Linked DNA regions of Homo sapiens: region 1 is linked to region 2. A link means that fine-mapping ties the variant in region 2 to the expression of a gene that starts in the linked region. Tissue or cell type: whole blood. Region 2 holds a variant in brackets; the other region holds the start of a gene. All regions are shown on one strand. Distances are between the middles of the regions.

Region 1 (8,101 bases), 54 kb before region 2:
AGTTAAAGGGATTCTTTCTGGGACTCTCAAGCCCAGGCCCAGCGTTCTTTTCAGGCCAACCCTCACCGTCTTCAGGCATCTACCCGCTCCCCTAGTCACCAGGGCACTCTAGTCTCCTTACTAGTGCACCCTCGCTTCACCTTTTCCAAGCCTGGCCCCTCCCTAGACATCTGTATTCCAGAGCCAGCCCAGCCTTTTCTTTAGGCCCTGCCCTTCCTGCAGACCCCGCCCCCTTCAGAGGGCCCCGCCCCTCCTGCCGTACCTTTCCTTTTCTCGTAGACCCCGCCCTTTCTCAGGCCGCTACTCACTGACAGCCCTCCCCCTCCCGCAGGCCCCGCCCCATTCGACAGGTTTATGCTCCGAACCCCTGCCCACCTCGCGGTAGATGTGGCTCTCTGCAGGGACAGCGCAGATGTCTGCACTGTGTCTGGACCGCGCCAGGTGTCCAAGCCTGCTGAGCTGGGGCAAGATCACCTTATCTAGGATTGTGGAGTCGTTGGTCGCCGACAAGTTGTAGCAGGAGCAGGGCACGCGGTGCGCCTCCGACCCGTTACCTCTCAGGATGAGGACTTGGAACCAGTCCTGCGGGTAGTGCCAGCCGCAGCAGCGCAGCTGGGAGAGGGATACGAGTCAGAGGGACCGGGACTGGAGACATATGATGTTGGGGATCAGGGGACAAGGTGATGGGTATGAGGTCAGGTCGGGGAGCAGGGGACTAAGTGGTGGGTGTGGAGTGGGGGACAGTGGGCTGGGGTCACGATGGGGCCGGAGCCAGGGGACATTACGGGAACATGGGGCTGGGAAAGACGAGTCACGGGGTGACCTGGGGCTGGGGAAGGAGCTGCAGGGTCGCGCTGTGGACTAGAGATTGGGTGGGTGGTGCAATTGAGCCTCTGATACCCGACAGGTGAATAGGAGTGCGAGACCATGTGAGTCTCATCGGGGGCGGGGTCCGGTGGAAGCCAGAGTCACTACGGGGTAGGAAGCCGTGTCTCGCTAGGGTCTTGGGACTAGGGGCCTGACAACCTCTGGTCGGGGCGGGGGCGGGGGCGGAGTCTCTCGAGGTAGATGGCGAAGCCACGCCAGGGTCTGGGTACTGGGAGACCAGGCGACGCCGGGGACAGTTGTGTCATCTGGGGAGTGGGGAGCGTCGGGCCTGGGAGGGATTGGGGTGTGTTAGGATCGTAGAGCTGGGGGTCGGGCCCACGTTGGGGTGGAGTCTCCTCCAAGCACAGGGCTGAGGCGGGTCAGTCCGGGAGGGAACTGGAGGAGGGGGGCTTACCTGGAACTGCACATAGTCCCAGCTCTCCTCGGCCGCGGTCTCCTCGGGGTTGGTGCCGTACTTTTGGATGGTTTTCTCTACGACGTCCCGCAAGCTTCGCTCCAGCTGAGAGGCCACCAGTGAGGCTGGGCCTTATCTTCCCCGCCCCACCCCTCCCCCTCTCAGGCTGTGCCAGCCTCAGGCGGGCCCTGTGCATCTCTGGGCCAGTCTCAAATCCTTACTGAATGGCTAGCTCTGTGTACTTCAGGTCTGTCTTTCTGTTTCTTCCACTATTTCTACGGCTCATAAGTCTCTGTCTCTTCTTTCAGGGCGTCTATTTCTTTCTCTTGTTCTCTCTTTTTCCCGTGTGTTTCCCTTTGGAGCTGTTTATGCCTGTCTCCCTTGGTCCAGGTCGGTGTGTCTTTCTATTAATTTATTTTTTGAGACAGGGTCTCACTCTGTCACCCAGGCTGAGTGCATGGCTCACTGTAGCCTCAAACTCCCTGGCTCAAGTGATCCTCCCACCTCGACCTCCCAAGTAGCTGGGACCCCAGGTGCACACCATCACACCCGGATTTTTTTTTTAAATATAGATGGGGTCTCACTATGTTGCCCAGGCTGGTCTCAAACTCCTGGACTCCCACCTCAGCCTCCCAAAGTGCTGGGATTATGGGATTACAGGCGTGAGCCACCAGGCCCAGCCTCTTATTTCTCTTTATCTAGGTTAGCCCCTGTCTGCCCTTGTTTCGGTCTCTCTCCACCCTCTCCCACCACTCCCTTCCCTCTCCTCCCTGCTGGGGGTGGGTGGTGGCCACTGCAGGAAGCTCACCTGGGCCCGCTGAGTGGAGATGAGGATTCCCAGGGTGATCTGTGTGGCAAACAGGAGCAGCAGCATCCCAAAATACTGGGGAGCAGAGTGGAGAGATCAGGCTGACCACCCCTGCAACCCCGGCCCAGGCCATTTTTGAGGGTGGGGATAGGAGTGTTCCTAGGGACGGAGAGGGATGGTGCACTCACCAGGCCCAGGAGGCAGCGGAGCTCCTTGAGGGCCCCCACACAACCCAGGAGGGCGATGCCCATGGTGAAGATTCCTGAGATGGCCAGGACTTTGGACCAGATCTGCAGAGGCACGAAGGCCAAGCCTGGGAGAGGTGAGGGGAGTGATGATGAGCTGTGTGGCACAGCTCCAGGCAGCCCCATTTCCCACCTAGGCAGCCACCCAAGTGGGGAGCAGTATCTTGGTGCCCCTCTCTCTGGGACTCTGTCCCTGCCCCACCCTGAGTCCCTGTTTCCTTCTGAAACTTTCTCTTCTTTCTGGGCCTGTTTCCCGTCCCTGGATCTCTGTCTCTCTTCCTCTTACCCTCTCCTTCCTCCTTCAGCTCCTCCTCGTCCCCAGTAGTTTCAGCCCTATCACTTGTTCTGTGACATTGGCTTGGCTCCTTAAACCTCCCTGAGGCATAGGAGATGATATCTATTTCTTAGGGTTTTTTTTTGAGTTGGAGCCTCGCTCTGTCCCCCAGGCTGGAGTGCAGTGATGTGATCTCGGCTCACTGCAACCTCTGCCTCCCAGGTTCAAGTGATTCTCCTGCCTCAGCCTCCCTAGTAGCTGCGACTACAGGCATGTGCCACCATGCCTGGCTAACGTTTTGTATTTTTGAGTAGAGACAGGGTTTCACCATGTTGGCCAGGCTATTCTCGAACTCCTGACCTCAAGTGATCCACCTGCCTCGGCTTCCCAAAGTGCTGGAATTACAGGTGTGAGCCACCGCGCCCGGCCCCTAGGGTCATTTTGAGAGACACATGAGGACATGTGTTCAACCCAGTCCTCAACACAGGGCAAAGACTTCTTAAATATGAGCGTTTAGGGTTATATTTCATTATTATTTAGGGTCATACTTCATTATTATTTTCCTATTATTAATGTTATTTTGGCTCTTTTACGTCCTTGCTGTATGACATCCATCAAGGGGCTTCCCCTCTCTGAACCTCAAGCGAGGGGAAGGTTTGTGGGGGCATCTGACCAGCCACAAGTCCCGACAGATAGGAAGTGCTTGAGAAATGGCTCTCATGATCATTGTTGTTTGTATGCACAACCCCATTTGCCGGAAGAAGACTCAGGCTCCAAGAAGCCTCCGGTGAGCAGTGGATGGGAGCCTGTAGCCTGCCTGCAGAGTAGGGCACCGTAGGTCTCCCTGAGACAAGGGAGACCCCAGGAAGTTGCTTGGGTTGGGGGAGGCCCTCCCACCTGCCCCAGCCCCCCTCACCCACAAAGGACACGAAGCTGGTCTTGTCAATGAGGATCCAGATGCCGAAGCAGAAGATCAGGCTGCCGAGGACCTGGGGAGAGGAGATGCGGATACGGGGGTGGGCCACAGGGGAAGATGAGGGCTGGGTTAGCGGCAGGGGCTGGGCCCCGGCTGGGTAGCCATGAGGCAACTCACGAAGAAGAAGAGGTTGAAAACGAAGAGGAAGTACTTGATGAGGCTGAGGCAGCTCTCCTGGGCTGACATCTTCACCTAGTGGGGTAAGCGGTCCACTCACCACACAGAAGAGGTGCTGACAGTGGGGGAGACAGGGAGAAAGAAAGAGGCTGAGAGAGAAAGAGAGACGGAGAGCTGAGAGAGAAAGGAAGAACCCCAAAAGAGGAAGTTCCAGGGGTGGGGCTCCACCCACTCCCGCTTCATGTAAGGTGGCTTTCTGTCTCTCTCTCTGTCCCTGTCTCCCTCACCTGCTCCACTGGGACACATGCTCTGGTACCTGAGGGGCCTTGGAATTTGTGGGCACCAAGGACTCATGGGGCAGTCCCTCCCAGGTCTCCATGTCTCAGGCGCTGGGGGATCTAAAGGGACCCCTGATCTACTGGAACCCACCTCTGGGCATGGGGACCTCAGGGCTGACCCTGGACAGCAGCTGACCTCACAGACACTCTGACCTCATGGCCTGCTAAGCTCTCCCATCTCTGCATCCAGCTGTGTCTCCCATTTCCTGCCCTGGGTCTCTTGTTCCTCCTCTCTGGGTCTTTGTCCCCACCTTCCTGCTACTCCCCATCTCTGTCCCCTTATCTCAGCAGAGTCTCTCCCTCCTCTGGGTCTCTGTCCTCCTGCCTCCTGGGGTCTCTATCCTCCCTCTCTCTGTGTTTCTTTATTTTATTTATATATTTGTTTCTTTTTGAGACAGGGTCTCACTTTTCACCCAGGCTGGAGTACGGTGGGGAAAACAGCTCACTGTAGCCTGGGCTCAAGCTATCCTCCCACCTCTGCCTTCTGAGTAGCTGGGATTACAGGTGCACACTACCATGCCTGGCTAATTTTTGTATTTTTTGTAGAAATGGGGTCTTGCTATGGAGTGGGAGTGTTGTATTTTTTATATTTAATTAAAAAAAAACAGAGATAGGGTCTCACTAGGTTGCCCAGGCTGGTCTGGAACTCCTGGACTCAAGCGACCCTCCTGCCTTGGCCTCCCAAAGTGTTGGGATTACAGGCGTGAGCCACTGTGCCTGGCCTCTCTCTGCTTCTGGCCCCTTCTTTGGGTCCTTCCTCCTTTCTCTCTTCATCTCTCTTTTGTTTTTGTTTTTGAGACAGGGTCGCCCAGGCTGGAATGCAGTAGTGCGATCATAGCTCACTGCAGCCCCAACCTTCCCAGGCTCGAGCAATCCTTGCACCTCAGCCTCCCAAGTAGCTGGGACTACAGGTGCACACCACCATGCCTGGCTAATTTTCTTCATTTTTTGTAGAGATGGGAGTCTCACTGTGTTGCCTAGGCTGGTCTCAAATTTCTGGGCTCAAGTGATCCTCCTGCCTTGGCCTCCTAAAGTGCTGGGATTATGGGCGTGAGCCACTGTGCCCAGCCTGTCTTCTTTTCTCTGTCTCCCCCTTCCCCACTTGTTTTTGTGCCTCTCAGAGTCTGCAGCCTGTTCTGGACCAGGGAGCACCCAGGTGCTGGGGGCAGGGGCTGGGTACCTGGGGAAGTGAAAGTGCTACAGGCTCGAGGTGGGAAGGTCCCTGGGAGTGGGGAGGGCGCTGGGCCGTGCCAACACCCCCAGCGGAAGCTGAGCATCAGGCGGTACTTCCTGCCTCTGCAGTGGGGCCCGAGGAGCGGAGGCCCCAGAGGAGGAGGCACTGAGCCTGGGATCCTGACAGTCAGATCTGGGTCTGCAGTGCCTGGTTGCAGGTGCACACCCAGTGGCCTCTGCAGTTTCCTCTGATGTCCCCAAATTCTCTCACCTGGTTTCCTCATCTGAGGCAGCCCCACCATCTATCTAGTCATGAGGTCAAAGCTCCATCTTGTCCCCTCTTCCCCAACAGCGCATCAGTCTCTTAGCCAGATCCCTCCTGCCTGCTGAGTCTCCACTCCACCCCTCTTCTCTGTCCTGAGGGCTCAGGCAGGCTCTGGGCTCCTGCTCTCCTACCTGGACCCTGACTTTAGGCTTCTCCCTGGCTTCTAGTTTCTCCCTCCAGTCTGTCCCCCACATAGCCCCAGAGGGGTCTTTTTGAAACCCAGTCCTGAGCCACACAGTTCTGTATCCAAACGCTGAGTCACCACCTGCCTCATCCCTCAGCTTTTATTTTTTTGGTGGTTGTTGAGACAGAGTCTCACTCTTCGCCCAGGCTGGAGTACAGTGGTGCAATCAGCTGACTGCAACCTCCGCCTCCTGGGTTCAAGCGATTCTCCTGCCTCATTCTCCCAAGTAGCTGGGATTACAGGCATGACCCACTACGCCCGGCTAATTTTTGTATTTTTGGTAGAGACGGGGTTTCACCATGTTGGCCAGGCTGACCTCGAACTCCTGACCTCAAGTGATCCGCTCACCTCGGCCTCCCCAAGTGCTGGGATTACAGGCATGAGCCACCACACCCAGGTTTTTGTTGTTGTTGTTGTTTGTTTGTTTTGAGATGGAGTCTCACTCTGTTGACCAGGCTGGAGTGCAGTGGCACGATTATGGCTCACTGCAACCTCTGCCTCCTGCGTTCAAGCAATTCTCCTGTCTCAGCCTCCAGAGTAGCTGGGATTACAGGCATGCACCACCATACCTGACTAATTTTTGTATTTTTAGTACAGACAGGGTTTCACCATGTTGGCCAGGCTGGTGTTGAACTCCTGACCTCAAGTGATCCAACTGCCTTGGCCTCCCAAAGTGCTGACATTACAGGTGTAAGCCACTGCGCCCAGCCCCTCAGCTTCTGTTTCTAACCACCACCAACGCCTCTCTGCTCTACCATTAAAGTACATTGCAAACCCAGCCACTTCTTTCCAAGGCCACCATCCTAAGTCAGGTTCCCATCATTTTCTACAAAAATAATTATAGCTGATTATAGTGGGTTGCATGGCGTTCTCCAAAAAGATATGTCTATGTCCTAATCCCCAGAACTTGTGGTGACCTTATTTGGAAAAAAGGGTTTTGCGGGTATAATTACATTCAGGATCTCAAGATACTGCATTATCTGTGTGACCCCTAAATCTGATGACAAGTGTCTGTTTTTTGTTTTTGTTTTTGAGACAGAGCCTCGCTCTGTCACCCAGGCTGGAGTGCTGTGGTGTGATCTCGGCTCACTGCAACCTCCGCCTCCCAGGTTCAAGCAATTCTCTGCCTCAGCCTCCCGAGTAAATGTGATTACAGGCAGGCGCCTGCCAGCACACCCAGCTGATTTTAGTATTTTTAGTAGAGATGGGGTTTCACCATCTTGGCCAGGCTGGTCTTGAATTCCTGACCTCGTGATCCACCCACTTCAGCTTCCCAAAGTTCTGGGATTACAGGCGTGAGCCACCGCACCCGGCTGACAAGTGTCCTTCTAAGAAACACACAGAGGAGAAGACACAGAAGAGGAGAGCACCATGTGATGGTAGACACAGAAATTGGAGTTCTACAGCCACAAGCCAAGGAACTCCTGGAGCCACCAGGAGATGGAAGATGCAAAGAACTGATTTTCTCTCAGAGCCTCTGGAGGGAGTGTGGCCCTGGTGACACCTTGATTTTGGACTTCTGGCCTACAGAACCATGTGAGAATACATTTCTGTTGTTCTAAGTAGTAAGTCTGTGGTAATTTGCTATTTCAGCCATAGGAGACTAATACACCAATCCCTCCTTCCCACCCACTGATCCCTCCTCAGAGATGAGTACATGATTAACCAGAAGTCGAAGGGTAGGTGGCAGAGTGCAGTGGTGCAATCACGGCTCACTGCAGCTTTGATGCTCACCAACTTGGTTTCTTCTTTCCTAGGCACACAGGAGGACTTCATTTCCCAGGTCTCCTTGCAGTGAAGTTGAGGCCATGTGACTGGTCTTGGGCCAATGGAATGGGTGCAGAAGGGACACAGCCCATTTCTAGACTCAGCCTGAAATGTCCTCCATAATCCTTACTCTTTCTCCCTTCACTCACTGGCTGCAGGAAGCTGAGAATTATCCTTGGACTTACATAAAGCATTTTGGACTTTATGTAAGTAACAACCTGTTGTATTAAGCTACTAAGATTTTACGGTTGTTTGTTAAATCAGCTAACCTTAAACATCCTAACAACTACAAATAGAATACCTGTTACTGCATACACTATATATATCAAAACATTATTATGGGCCAGGTGAGGTGGCTCATGCCTGTAATTCCAGCACTTTGGGAGGCTGAGGCAGGAGGATCACATGAGCCCAGGAGTTCGAGACCAGCCTGGGCAACATAGTGAGACCCTGTCTACAAAAATTAACAAAAAAATTAGCTGGGCTTTGTGGTATGTACCTACAGTCCCAGCTACTCAGGAGGCTGAGGTGGGAGGACTGCTTGAGCCTGGGAGATCGAAGTTGCAGTGAGCCGTGATTGCACCACTGCACTCCAGCCTGGATGACAGAGCA
Region 2 (8,101 bases):
GATTCTCCTGCCTCAGCCTCCTGAGTAGCTGGGATTACAGGTATGTGCCACCACACCTGGCTAATTTTTGTATTTTTAGTAGAGATGGGGTTTCACCATGTTGGCCAGGCTTGTCTTGAACTCCTGACCTCAAGTGATCCACATGCCTCGGCCCTCCCAAAATGCTGGGTTTACAGGCGTGAGCCACTGCGACCTGGCCACTCTAGCATACCTTTGAATGGCCCTCACATTCTTGTACCGTTCTTCCACCATTTCCCTGGGGCCAGGTATGCGGAGGAGCATTGCAGCCAGACACCACAGCAGCAATACAAACTACAACAGAAAAAATAATGAATATAAAAGTGGCTTCAGGTACTCAGGTTAACTGCTGCGAGGCACCACGGCAGGCCCGCAGTGGAGGAGAGGGGCAGCTCTCTGCAGACCCAACAGTCTGTTTTGTTCTGGAGAGAGACCACCGTCTGTGCTCAGCTGGCAAGAGGTTTGCTGCATACCATCTATGGGTGAAAAGTGAGATGTTTAGTGAGTACAAGAAGGGGCAAGTCATGGTCATTTTTTTCTTTTTGAGACAGAGTTTCACTCTTGTTGCCCAGGCTGGAGTGCAGTAGCTGGATCTCGGCTCACTGCAACCTCCGCCTCCTGGGTTCAAGCGATTCTCCTGCCTCAGCCTCCCAAGTAGCTGGGATTATAGGCGCCCGCCATCATGCCCAGCTAATTTTTTGTTTTTAGTACAGGTGGCGTTTTGCCATATTGGCCAGGTTGGTCTCAAACTGCTGGCCTCAGGTGATCCACCCACCTCGGCCTTCCAAAGTGCTGGGATTACAGGCATGTACCACTGCACCCAGCCTCATGGTCATTTTACAAGAAACAGGAAGTTGTGTCCTTCTGAGACAGCATCACCCCGAGAGTGGCCTGGTGCTTGGTTTGCAATACCAAATAGGTTGGCCCCCTCTCTACAAAGTGTCACATGAGGCTGGAGTAAGACAATAGGGATATTATGCAGTGTGGGCATCCAGACGCTAGACTGTTACATGCATCCCCCAGGTGCAGTGGAGAATGTTCTTCTATATCAGCCCCCCAAAGGGGGCTGCCTGCTACCATCCAATCCTGTGTTTCTCCTTGTAGTAGGCACATGGTGGGCCCCTTAAAGATGGTGCCCAGATGTCAGTGCACAGGACTGTTGGGTCCGGCTCCTAGAAGAAACCATCCAGGCAGCTCAGCCCATTGGCTACATGTCCTTTGCCTGTATCGAGCCAGATACTCTCAGTGGACAGCTGGATACAGGTGGAAGGATTGCCTCGTGACAAGCCATCTGTGTACCAGGCCTGGTCAGGAATTGGGGCCTGTCCCTCTTATATAAAGGAGGGAATATGTGGAGGCTCAGTGCCTTGTCAAAGACTGTCCTTCAGCTGTCACATAGGTGACAGGGCCAAGCAGCAAACGGAACCCTGTGCTAGTTCGTGTACTCCTCTGTTGCAGGCATGCGTGCCATTTGGCCACAATCTGTTTCTGGGCATTCCCAGATTTTGGTTTCTGGAAGGTGTCCTACTTTCGACTAGGATAAAGGCTAAGGCCTCAGGATCCCGATAAGAGCAATGGTGGCTGAGTGTCTGGAGACTGGCGGCCACATATAGAGCTAGCTAACTATATATTGGTCACCTAAGAATGCACAGGCTGGCTGGGCGTGGCGGCTTACGCCTGTAATCCCAACATTTTGGGAGGCCAAGGTGGGCGGATCACCTGAGGTCAGGAGTTTGAGACCAGCCTGGCCAACATGGCAAAACCCTGTCTCTACTAAAAATACAAAAATTAGGTGGGCGTGGTGGCGGGCACCTGTAATCCCAGCTAACCTACTATGGGGTACTGGGTATGTACTAGCATGGGAACCCCTTTGGAACATCTTCCACTTGCTGTAAGGCATAACACGTAGTGCAGAATTATAGCTCCCTGACACTGTAACTTCAGTCCCCTTCCATAGCTGGAACCAGAATCCTAAAGGTACAAGTTTGTGTCCTTGCCTTTGCCACTGGTCCCAGTTGGCCCCCTTCTTGACTAAGTGGTACAGTGGCCTAAGGAGTTGAGCCAAATGGGAAATAAAAGGACACCACGGCCTTAGAAGAACTAAGAAGGTTTGCAGCCACTTTGGTGGTGTAGGATGTGGGTAGGCCTGCACCATATGTAGAATGGCAAATTGAACACCGTTAGTCTTACCCAACCAGATGACACCAAGTATTGGACTGATAAGCCTGGACCCTGCCTTTGTCTGCATTGACCGCCCATCCTCTGTTAACCAAGTGAGACAGCAAGGTGAGGGCTATAGAGACTCAGAAGTTAGCTGGCAAAAGACTCAGAATTTAACATCAATGTAAAGGAAAACATGTACCCTCTCCAGGGTAGTCCATCTACTGAGGTCTGTGGCCACTAGGCGTTGACAGATAGTGAGGCTATGGAAATATCCCCGCGGCAAGACAGTAAAGGTATATTGTTCTCCTTCCCAGGTGAAAAGGTTAGGCTTTTTTTTTGAGAGGGAGTCTCGTTCTGTTGCCCAGGCTGGAGTGCAATGGCGTGGTCTCGGCTCACTGCAACTTTCGCCTCCCAGGTTCACACCATTCTCCTGCCTCAGCCTCCTGAGCAGCTGGGATTACAGGCGCCCGCCACCACGCCCAGCTAGGGTTAGGCTTTGTGTCCCCATCCAAATCTCGTCTTGAGTTGAAATCTCTATAATCCCCACGTGTCAGAGACACCAGGTGGAGGTAATTGAATCATTGGGGCGGTTTCCCCCATGCTGTTCTCGTGGCAGGGAGTGAGATCTCGCGAGATCTGATGGTTTTATAAGGGGCTCTTCCCCCCTTCGCCCGGCCTCGTGAAGAGGGTGCCTTTCTTCCCCTTTGCCTTCTGCTGTGATCGTAAGCTTCCTGAGGCCTCCCCAGCTATGCTGAACTGTAAGTCAATTAAACCTCTTTCCCTTATGAATTACCTAGTTTTGGGCAGTTCTTTATAGCAGCTTGAAAACGGACTAATATACCAGGTGAATGCAATGACAAAATGAGGTGCGTGCAGTCCCTCTCTTATCCTCATAAGAAAGGAGGCGATATGAGAACAGCTGCATACATTAGGGGGACGGCTTTGTTGAACTCCCAGTAATATGTCATTCTCCGTGTCCCATCAGGCATCCACATGGGCCATGCAGGGCTATTGTATGGGCTGTTCACTGGTCTTATAATGTCTACCCAGACTTCTTTCCTTTTCAGTCCCTATGATCTCATCATGACCTCCTGGCAGGTGTTGTCGTTTCTTTTTTCTTTTCTTTTTTTTTTTTTTTTTTGAGACGGAGTCTTGCTCTGTCGCCCAGGCTGGAGTGCAGTGGCACGATCTCAGCTCACTGCAAGCTCCGCCTCCCGGGTTCGCGCCATTCTCCTGCCTCAGCCTCCGGAGTAGCTGGGACTACAGGCACCCGCCACCGCGCCCGGTTAATTTTTTGTATCTTTTAGTAGAGACAGGGTTTCACCGTGTTAGCCAGGACGGTCTGGATCCTCTGACCTCGTGATCCGCCTGCCTCGTCCTCCCAAAGTGCTGGGATTACAGGCGTGAGCCACCGCGCCCGGCCAGGTGTTGTCGTTTCAATGCTGCTATTCACAGAGGGGCTGGCAGCTGTGCTGGTGTCCATTTCGCATTCCCCTTGATCACGCGCCTCACCATCCTAACTCAGTCGCAATTCAGAGGGTCACAGTCCTGATGAGACAGCCCTTCCCAAGATGTAATCTGGGATAGGAGCTCTGTATACTAAATAGGGTTTGGGCAGCAGTCTCCTAACTTGTAATACTAGCTCAACCTGTCTGACTTTCACGACCCCCGCCCCCACCGACCATCTATTGTTATAGGCCACTGGAACCACGGATGTCACCACATACGAGAGTGCATTCAGCTCCAGTATCCGCTGGGAACAGCCTGTACATTCTTGTTTTTTTGTTTCGTTT[T/C]GTTTTTGAGATGGAGTCTCACTCTGTCACCAGGCTGGAGTGCAGTGGCACGATCTCGGCTCACTGCAACCTCTACCTCCCGGGTTCAAGCGATTCTCCTGCCTCAGCCTCCAGAGTAGCTGGGATTACAGGTGCCCAGCTAACTTTTGGTATTTTTGGTAGAGACAGGGTTTCACCATGTTGGTCAGGCTGGTCTCGAACTCCTCACCTCGTGATCTGCCCACCTCAGCCTCCCAAAGTGCTGGGATTACAGGCGTAAGCCACCTTGCCTCCTGGATGCATTCTTGGTTTTTTGCCTTTTTTTTTTTTTTCTGAGACGGAGTCTCACTCTGTGGTCCAGGCTGGAGTGCAGTGGCACGATCTTGGCTCACTGCAACCTCCGCCTCCCAGGTTCAAGTGATTCCTATGAAGGGACTCAAGATAGACGCCAGTGTGCCACACCATTGGTAGTGTGCCTACTGTAAGATGGCATTTCTCATGCCCGCAGTGAAAAGCTCCTTGTCAGGGCCTCGGTAATGCTCAGTGTAGATAGCAAGCATCACCCCTAATTCCCAGAGGATGTCCCTCAATTCCTCCATAATCTGTCATCACAAAGGAGATGTGGGGACATTCCTTTCTTTCTTTTTGAGATGGAGTCTCGCCCTGTTGTCCAGGCTGGAGTGCAATGGCTCCATCTCAGCTCACTGCAACCTCCGCCTCCCGGGTTCAAACGATTCTTCTGCCTCAGCCTCCCGAGTAGCTGGGATTACAGGCACCTGCCACGACACCCGACTAATTTTTGTATTTTTAGTAGAGACGGGGTTTCACCATATTGGCCAGGCTGGTCTCAAACTCCCTACCTCATGATCCTCCTGCCTCGGCCTCCCAAAGTGCTGGGATTACAGGCCTGAGCCACTGCACCCAGCTGGGACATTCCTTTCATTTGGCCAGGCTGCCTTGCAGCTTGCAACCACCCGGCTAAGGAGGGGGTGGCCCGATCGTCATTATTGGTGCCATCGAGGCACCGCCTCAGGGCTGGATGGTTGGTGATGGATGCCATTTCACTCATCTCTGTTCCATGTCCCATAGACAGAGAAGCCACCCTGTGACCGACTCTCTGCCCTTCTTCCTGAACCTAGTTCCCAGCTCCACCAACTCCACAGCCGTGGAATCCCGCACTATGGTGTCTTCCAGGCAGGGGCAAGTCTTGCAGGGTGACCCCCTATGTCTGTGGTTGGTCGGCTTTCATCTTGGTGTTGACCAGCAAACGTGCAGAGAGGATGGGCACCTCCATGAGCTCATCCCAGGCCTCACTCTCTTCCCCACTAGAGCTCTCCATGGGGTCCCAGAACTTAGGGTCCCAGGATGATTTAGTCATGAGGGCCCTAACTCATTGACATAGCAGCCAGCAGCTTTTCAAATGGACCATACCTGACAAGCCAGGGTCTCTCCATTTTGTCATCCCGTGCCTGCAGGCAGGACAGTCGGTCTCTGATGTTTCAGTCTGATCTAATTAGGCATCTCTTTGTCATCGCAGTTCATCTTGTAATGGATGCACCTTCACCTGCGCCATGAGCCCGGCCCCCGAGGCTGCTCAGAGCACAGTCAGGAGTGGCCAGCCAACCGCAGCTGCCACAGCTCAGGCATCTAACTTTTGCTTAGTTAGATCCACCTCCTGCAATAGCTCTTCCAGACCCTTCAGTGTTTTGGGGGCATCTCTGTACCCATGCCTTGGGCCTCATCCATCAAGGATAGTGGCTGTTGGGCCCCACACAGACGTGGACAGCCAGCCCGAGATGCCCCCCGATGATATTCTCCTCTCCAATCCCATCGACTCTGCGTGCACAGGATTTTCTCCAACCTCCTGCTGGGATCATCGGTTGTCGTGCCAAATGCCTGTTAACTTCAGTAGCCATGGCACCAAGTTCAAGAGGCTGAAGAAGAGACCCAGAGCCAGCACACAAAACACAGGGCTTATTTGGGGGAACTTGCAGCATGGGCCAGTGGTGGTGGACTGGACAGGAGAACTACAACCATTTGCAAAAAGCATGCAGTTCAGGCCAGACTCGGTGGCTCGTGCCTGTAATCCCAGTACTTTGGGAGGCTGAGGCAGGTGGACCACTTGAGGTCAGGAGTTCGAGACCAGCCTGGCCAACATGGTGAAACCGTCTCTACTAATAATATAAAAATTAGCTGGGCATGGTGGCGGGCGCCTGTAGTCCCAGCTACTTGGGAGGCTGAGGCAGGAGAATCGCTTGAACTTGGGAGGCAAGGTTGCAGTGAGCTCAGATGGTACCACTGCACTCCAGCCTGGGTGACAGAGCGAGACTCTGTCTCAAAAAAAAGAAAAAAAAATGCAGTTCATAGGGCACTTTCACTTAGCATCCTCCCCTAGCAACCTCTACGTGGCAACCCTCATTCTCAGAGGCAGCTTAAGTTATTGCTGTCAGGTGTATCTGCCATAAGGGTAGGGTTAAGGAAAGTTATTGCTATCAGAGATGTCTACCAGACACTCCCAAGCTCCCTTTTGTCCAGAGGCCTAAGATAGTCTTCTGTGACAGCTTTATTGAAATGTGATTCATATACCACACAATCAACCTATTTAAAATTTACAATTCGGCCAGGCATGGCGGCTCATTCCTGTAATCACAGCACTTCGGGAGGCCGAGGTGGGTGGATCACTTGAGGTCAGGAATTCTAGTCCACCCTGGTCAATATGTCAAAACCCCACCTCTACTAAAAACACAAAAATTAGGCGGGCATGGTGTTGGGTGCCTGTAATCCCAGCTACCTGGGAGGCTGAGGCAGGAGAATCTCTTGAACCTGGGAAGCAGAGGTTGCAGTGAGCTGAGATCATGCCATTGCACTCCAGCCTGGGGGACAAGAGCAAAACTCCGTCTCAAAAAAAAAAGTTTACAATTCAATGATATTTAGTATATTCATAGAACTGCCGCATTTTGCCAAATGGCTTTTTAGCATTTAGTGGACTTGTTGATAGAATTTTAAATATTGAACTCTCCTTGTGGGATCAATTCTACTTAGGTGTAATGTATTATCCTTTTGATATATTCTAGATTCTACTTGCTAATATTTAGCTTGTTCATCTCGTCTTTGTAAATGAGGGGTTTTTTTCTACTTTTTATAAATTTTGGCATTAAAGTTATGCTAGCTTCAGAAAGTAAATTGAGGCGCTCTTTATTTTTTCTGTGATCCTAAGCCAGTGCTGCTCAAACTTTAGTATGCTGAAAGTCACCTGGAAAGCTGGTTAAACAGATCGTTGGGCCCCATCTTCTAGTGATTTTTTTTTTTTTTTCTTGAAACAGAGTCTTGCTCTTGTCACCCAGGCTGGAGTGCAATGGTGCGATCTCGGCTCACTGCAACCTCCGCCTCCCAGGTTCAAGCGATTCTCCTGCCTCAGCCGTCTCGAATAGCTGGGATTACAGGCGTGCACCACCACTCCTGTCTAATTTTTGTAGTTTTAGTAAAGACAGGGTTTCGCCATGTTGGCCAGGCTGTTCTCGAACTCCTGACCTCGTGATCTGCCCGCCTTGGCCTCCCAAAGTTCTGGGATAACAGGCGTGAGCCACTGCACCCGGCCGCCCGCTAGTGATTTTTATGTGGTGAATCTGGATTCAGGTTCATTAATTTGCATTTATCACACTCCCAGGTGATGCTTAGGATTCGTGGGCCACACTTTGAGCAGCCTGGTGTAATTGACATTAGAACCATCTGCTTTTTAAAGGTTAAATCGAACTCATCTCTGAACCCATCTGGTCCCAGAGCCCATTTGTGCAGTAAATCTCTACTCATCTTTCCAACCCTTTCCATTAATTTTCCCCAAAATTCTTGGATTATTTTTAGTAATTTACATTTGCCAGACACTTTCAGTTTCCTCTAAGGTTTCAGATTTGTTGACCTAGGATTTCATATAGCATATGTCCTTAAAATTCTAAATTTGATGGCTGTGTCTCTTTTCTCATTTTTTACATTTTGTTATTTTTATTTATCTTTTTCTCAATCAGATTCACAAGTGGCATTTGGATTTACTTAGCATTTTTACTTTATTTTCTATCTTATTAATGTCAACTTTATAATTACAATTTCTAGTTTGTTTTGTCTTTATTCTTCTGATTTCTCAAACTCCTGAC

The links. PIP is the estimated chance that this variant, and not a neighbour inherited with it, causes the effect.
Region 1: CD37 starts here. The variant in region 2 is fine-mapped to the expression of CD37 in whole blood (TOPMed, PIP 0.98).

What each region holds. Positions count from the first base shown.
Region 1 is chr19:49,331,211-49,339,311 of GRCh38, reverse strand. It overlaps CD37 (CD37 molecule), which reads right to left and starts at 3,906. Exons shown (of 8, transcript NM_001774.3): 1 at 3,703-3,906; 2 at 3,526-3,598; 3 at 2,279-2,403; 4 at 2,091-2,165; 5 at 1,283-1,387; 6 at 376-612. The coding sequence starts at 3,771. It also overlaps a transcript of SLC6A16 not described here. RefSeq lists enhancers at 3,676-3,795, 4,286-4,355, 5,212-5,481, 5,752-5,831.
Region 2 is chr19:49,277,084-49,285,184 of GRCh38, reverse strand. No RefSeq gene overlaps it. Among named protein-coding and RNA genes, the nearest start is that of MIR4324, 28 kb to the left of the region's middle. The variant T/C (reference allele first, on the strand shown) is at 3,975.